Homo sapiens: one gene and its partner. The protein of the gene in region 1 purifies or fractionates together with the protein of each later gene. This does not show direct contact. Each region holds a gene or a part of one and is shown in the gene's direction. Other genes may lie near its edges. The genes, in order: ZBTB11 and CEP135.

Region 1 (2,707 bases):
TTATCATGATATACCTTTTATGAATTAATGTTTATAAATGACTGTACTGAATTTAAAACCGTACAGTTTCATTTGCATTTTGACATTACTTTATTATACATTTTGCATTTAAAAGGCTGCACCAGTTGGCTTTTCTTCTGTTTTATTCTCAAAATATAGAGATTCTGTGATTTATTTGCCCTGTTTATGGATTAAAAAGAAAATTCTAATATAAAGCATTTCAATAGGATGCATAGGTATATTACGTTTTTTAAATGCTTTAGATCTGTGATTCTTGACTTACTATTTATTTTATCCCCTTTTAAGTCAGGGATGCTTTATTCTATTTTAAAGCACTTATGAGTTACATGTTGTAATCAAGTTTGCACAATATATTTATCTATATGAGGAACCCATAAATGAATAGCTAATTTTTAAAATGCCATTAAAATGCATGAAATGCTTATTAAAACCTTACTATACTATTTCTTCAAGGCAAGTAAATTGACCATGAGAAAAGAACACAGTTATTAAACACTGTTGACAGGAAAATTCTCCTTGATAACATAGGACAATTAATGGAAAAAAAAATTCTCATTATTTGCAAAGAATGAACAAGTTAATGAACAAACAAACTAGATTTGGTATGTTTTCAGCTTTTGTATCATGTTTAATTGTTTAATTTGGTTGAAAAACTGCAGTTGAGAAATCAGATAGCAATATAGACATTCACAGCAGCTCTGTGGATACCATGTAATTGTCAGGTAATTTCAGAATGTTGAAAATTATTCAGTGCAGCCCTCATAGTATCATACTTGAAGAAATTGATTACAGTTCCACTAAATTGTTGAAGATAAATTATTTTTAAAGGTTATGAAAACTAAGTTATATTAATTCATATGTTTGATTTTTAAATCCCACCTCCTCAAGCTATCCAATTTTCTGACTTTGAAAATAACCATGAGAGATGCCACATTTCTCTCTGGGAAACTACCACTCAAAGAATAATTGTTAAAAATTAAGCTTTTAGGTATTAGAAGCTGTTATAAAGTATAAAATTAAGATATAAGCAGATCACATGTAAATCATTCCTAAAGCACAAGAAAAGAATGTGCCTTGATGTACATATATTACTAAGTTGCCTCTCCCAGTTTACTTTAAAAATGGCTTTAAGGATAAAGAATAAATGTGATAGCTGTGCATGCATTATATATTTGCATTTGCAAATTTCCCATTGTTTTAACAGCTGTGTGGCTGACTTTCAATTTTAAGACGTGAATTGACATACAGCCCATAACTTTATAATGGCTGCTCATTTATCTTATCTTTCAGTTAGTGGAAAAACATTTCAACCTGACTAAAATTTGGAATTGTGTCTTTTATGTTCCATCCTCTGTTGTTACTAGATTTAGTTTAAAAATTGTGTATGACCATTAATGTATGTCATAAACATGTAAATAAAAGATGTTGAATCTTGTTGAAAAGCATGAACTTTGGAGTTGAGCTTGTTACTATTTTCAGTTCATAAATCAGTTGTTACTTGATGTGTTATTAAGTTAATTTATTTTTAAAGGGAAAGGAAATAAAACACTAAAAAATAACGATTGGAGGAACACAATATTAAAACTTCTTACTCTTACATATAATTGATATGGACAAGAGGCAAGGAAATAATGGGTAGAAGAGGGCAGTTCCCCAGCAAAAGCCTGGAAACCCATGGCCCTAAATGGGAACAGGCATTCCTGTTTTCATGCCCAAATGTTGCCTTTTGGCCCACCACGCCCTCCTATCCTGTATCCATATAAACCCTAAACCCCAGGCTCCATGAGCAGAAGAGTGTTGCGGCAGAGGAGAGAAGAGAGGAGCATCTAAACGTCCAGAGGAGTTCAGCTGGGGACGGTTGGAGAGGAGATCATCTTCCCACTCCATCCCCTTTCCAGCTCCCCATCCATCCTGCTGAGAGCCACCTTTATCCAGCAATAAAATCCCCTGCATTTACCATCCTTCAATTTGTCCATGTGACCTGATTCTTCCTGGACGCTGGACAAGAACGCAGGTACCAAGAGGGCACTGAGCTAGTTAACACTTAAGCTATCTGTAGACAGCAGAGCTAAAGGAGCCCTGTAACATTCCCACTGGGGCTTTGGGAGTTGCAGACACCCCCCACCAGATGCTACTGTGGGGCCAGAGCCCAAAAGCACTCAATCCAGCTCCTGCACTTGCCCATCTGCATGCTTCCCCTCCTGTAAGGGGTTTGGGTGAACAAATGAGCCACACCCCTGTCTCATGTCCTGTGAGGATATCTGGGAACTTCCTTTTCATAATCTTGTCACAGGATTATATATTGTGCCATCAACCATCAGCTTTGAATAATGTAAATTTGTAAATTATATAAATTCCATGTAGAAACAAATGTTAAGAAGGTTCCAAAAATTCAGTGCAGTTTTAATGTTACCAAGAGGGCATTGTTAATTTATAACAATTCCTTTTTAGAAACATAAAGCATATTGCTGTCATGAGATGACTTCCAAAAACTATGGGTGTCTCCTGATCAAATATGGACGCCTTAAGCACTTTTGGCTACTTGTTACTGCTACTGCTACTAAGCAATTTGAATCACTGTTGTTATTCCCTGAAATGCATGTATTGTCAATCGAAGTGAATTAAGTAATGCTCTAACAGGTTTTAATATGTTCATTTTACTAAAAGCCAATGGGGGTTTGCATAA
Region 2 (3,835 bases), on another chromosome or scaffold:
TTGAGTCCTGGGATAGTGCTGATGATAATGTTAGCATTGTATATTTATTTTTGGTTTTCTTTGTCAGGATTGAAGTCAGCTTGTGACTACACCACCATTTTAGACCCAGAAGTTTCCCAAATATGCAGTTATTATTGGCCATGTAGAAGTTTCTAAGACCTAGGGCCATATTTTCTAATGTTTAAATGTCATTTTTTTCAAATAATGTTAATCTTCAAAATGTGATTTTGTCTATTTCTAGAATGTGATTTTATCAGATCTCATTAAAGCAAACTCAAGAAAACTATTCAAGGGTTGGTCAAAACATGCCAGTATGTGAAGTATGATTGGGACATGGAGATATGTTTACTTGGAGCTTTGTTTTAGGCATACTTTATATAATTGAGCTGTGTATTTGAACTATATGAATATGACAAGTTACATAAATTTAGCTAAAGACATTTTGGTTTAAAATCTTACACATTTTTGTAATTTCTATAGGAAAAAGCTGTTGCTCAAATGAAGATAATGATCTCAGAGTGTGAATCATCTGTGAAGTAAGTCATTAATGAAATTACATCCAGCTTTTTAGGAGATTTTCAGTGAATACAGCTTTATCTATTCAGTAGCATTGCAGCAATAGAAGAATTTCCCTTTCAATTTCCCCATTTTTGTCAATGGTAGCATCATTTTCTCAGTCTCCAGCTTGAAAATGTTATCTTCTTTAACCTCTCCTTTTCTGTCATCCACATCTAAACACTTATGTCTTATTAACTATTCTCCTATATACCTATTTGTTCCTTATTTTTACTATAATTATGCCACTTGGAGCCTAATCATTAAAACCTAAAATTACTTTAGTAGCCAATCTCGAATTTATTCTCCATCTAAACCTATCTTGAGCACTGTCACAAAATTTTACATTTTATGTATAGTCTCTCTAGGCAGATTGTAAGCCACTTCAAGAAAAAAGTCACTTATTATATTTATTTTACATACCCTTAACATTTTATATAATAGTGGGGATTATAAACATTTAATAAATATTTGCCAATTGAATCTATGCTTTACTTTTTGTTTGTTTGTTTTTGAGACAAGGTCTCACTCTGTCGCACAGGCTGGAGTGTAGTGGCGAGATCTCTGCTCACGGCAACCTCACCCTCCCCAGGCTCAGGTGATCCTCCCACCTCAGCCTTCTGAGTAGCTGAGACTGCAGGCGTGTGCCACCACGCTCAGCTAATTTAAAAAAAAATTTTTGTAGAAACAACGTCTCCCTATATTGCCCAGGCTGGTCTCGAACTCCTGGGCTCAAGCTATTCAACTGTTTTTGTTGTTGTTGTTGTTTTTTGTTGTTGAGACGGAGTCTCGCTCTGTTGCCCAGGCTGGAGTGCAGTGGGGCGATCTCGGCTCATTGCAAGCTCTGCCTCCCGGGTTCACGCCATTTTCCTGCCTCAGCCTCCCAAGTAGCTGGACTACACGTGCCCGCCACCACACCCGGCTATTTTTTTTTGTATTTTTAGTAGAGACGGGGTTTCACCGTGTTAGCCAGGATGGTCTCTATCTCCTGACCTCATGATCTGCCCGCCTCGGCCTCCCAAAGTTCTGGGATTACAGGCGTGAGCCACCGCGCCCAGCCCCCAAGCTATTCAACTTTTAACACTTGAAAGTTTTCTGTGTTTACTTGACTGTTGGAATAACATTTTTTTTTAACTTCATTTGCATGTAATTATTGGTAGAGCTCTAAAATACCTGTTCTACCTAATTAATAGGTCTCTTAATGCAGCAGTTATAATTTCTTATAATCACAGTATATTTGTATTCTAAGTATACTTAGACTATAAGTTTTCTTTTAAATGAACTACAGTTTTTAAAAGTTTTCTTTATTAGTTTCACATCACTCATTTAACAGCCAGCTGAAAGAAACATTGGTTAATCGAGATCGTGAGATAAACAGCCTCCGGCGCCAGCTTGATGCAGCTCACAAAGAACTCGATGAAGTAGGAAGATCTAGAGAAATCGCTTTTAAGGAAAACAGAAGACTGCAAGATGACCTGGCTACAATGGCAAGAGAAAATCAAGTATGAACACAAGGCATAAATTTTGATAGTTTTATACTTTCCATTGTTTGCTAAATATTAAAGCTCTAAATATTTTTTCTAAAATCTGATGATATAAAAATAAGTGACATAAATAATTCATTAAGGACAATGGTGTTTATCAGGGTATTAAAAAATGGAGCTTAGGCCGGGCGCAGTGGCTCACACCTGTAATCTTAGCACTTTCAGAGGCTGAGGTGGGTGGATCACTTGAGGTCAGGAGTTCGAGACCAGCCTGGCCAACATTGTGAAAACCCCCCCCCCACCCCCATCTCTACTAAAAATACAAAAATTAGCCAGGCCTGGCGGCATGCGCCTGTAATCCCAGCTGCTCGGAAGGCTGAGGCAGGAGAATCACCTGAACCTGGAGGCAGAGGTTGCAGTGAGCCGAGATCGTGCCACTGCACTCCAGCCTGGGCAACAGAGTGAGACTCCATCCAAAAAAAAAAAAAAAAAATGGGCAACAGCGTGAGACTCTGTCAAAAAAAAAACACATAGCTTAGAATGCTGCTATATATCACAGGGTGTCTAATGGGTGCAACTGGTCTTCTCACCATTTTGGTCTTTGTTGCAAGGAAACCTAAAGGTGGGAGCATGAAATTCTGTATGTCAGAAATCATTGTCACCCTACCGGGCGAGGACATCAGCATCCCTCCCAGAGCAAAGTTTCTGTGTTTTAAAGACTCAGGATAGGTTTTAATTATTTGTGCAAGCTTCTGTCGGCTCCAAAATACACCTGTAGATAAATGAATGAGTGTTTTAGAATGGCAAGTACTGAAAGGTGTTAGTTCTGTTCGTGCTGGTTTCTTAAAAGATTGTACTGAGAAAACCAGTGATTTTACTGTTTTAAACATCTTACGTTTTTAAAAAATTATTTTCCGTATTATTCAGCATAAAGCATATTGATGAAATATGAATGTTTTTTAATGTCAACCCCTGACCATAGCTAGCCTTTAGTGTAAATGCCAGATACATGATCAGGACTATTATGGGAAATGTGTGATAAAGTTTGGTTAAAAAGTCAGTATCAGACCAGGCGTGGTAGCTCACGCCTATAATCCCAGCACTTTCGGAGACCAAAGTGGGAGGATTGCTTGAGCCCAGGAGTTTGAGACCAGGCTGGACATCATAGTGAGACCTCATCTCAGAAAATTAAAAAAAAAAATTAGCTGGTATGGTGACATGTGCCTGTGGTCTCAGCTACTCGGAGGGCTGAAGTGGAAGGATTGCTTGAGCCCAGAAGGTCGAGGCTGCAGTGAGCTGTGATCACGCCATTGCACTTCAGTCTGGGCGACAGAATGAGACTCTGTCTGAAATATTTTAAAAGGCAAGATCAGCCAGGAAAAATATGTGAAAATAACACTTAGGAACAGTTTTCCTTTTGCCCTACTCTATCTTATTCTCCAATTCCAAAGGAATTATTTGAATATAAATAAAATTTATTTGGTGTTGTGTTCATTTTAGATTGTCTTTAATTTTCTGATTTGTAGGAAATCTCATTGGAATTGGAAGCAGCAGTGCAAGAAAAAGAAGAAATGAAGAGCAGAGTTCATAAATACATAACAGAGGTGTCACGATGGGAGAGCTTAATGGCTGCCAAGGTGAAAAATATTATTTAGGTTGGATTTAAGACTGAGGTTTTTTTTTTTTTTAACTTTTTCATGTGCCTCTACAATTAGATATTAAACATTTTAAAGTAGAGATCTTGTCTACTGCCTTTTTCTATTTTTCCCATAGATTTTAGTGTGGTACCTGCACAG

What was found.
Region 2: the proteins of ZBTB11 (region 1) and CEP135 purify together in Homo sapiens (co-immunoprecipitation; one large-scale study listed by IntAct). This does not show direct contact.

What each region holds. Positions count from the first base shown.
Region 1 is NC_000003.12:101,648,202-101,650,908, reverse strand, and holds the end of ZBTB11 (zinc finger and BTB domain-containing protein 11), read left to right. Parts: 3' UTR 1-2,020; downstream 2,021-2,707. UniProt on the Homo sapiens protein: May be involved in transcriptional regulation.
Region 2 is NC_000004.12:56,007,847-56,011,681, forward strand, and holds part of CEP135 (centrosomal protein of 135 kDa), read left to right. Parts: intron 1-480; coding exon 481-536; intron 537-1,888; coding exon 1,889-2,057; intron 2,058-3,565; coding exon 3,566-3,676; intron 3,677-3,835. UniProt on the Homo sapiens protein: Centrosomal microtubule-binding protein involved in centriole biogenesis. Acts as a scaffolding protein during early centriole biogenesis.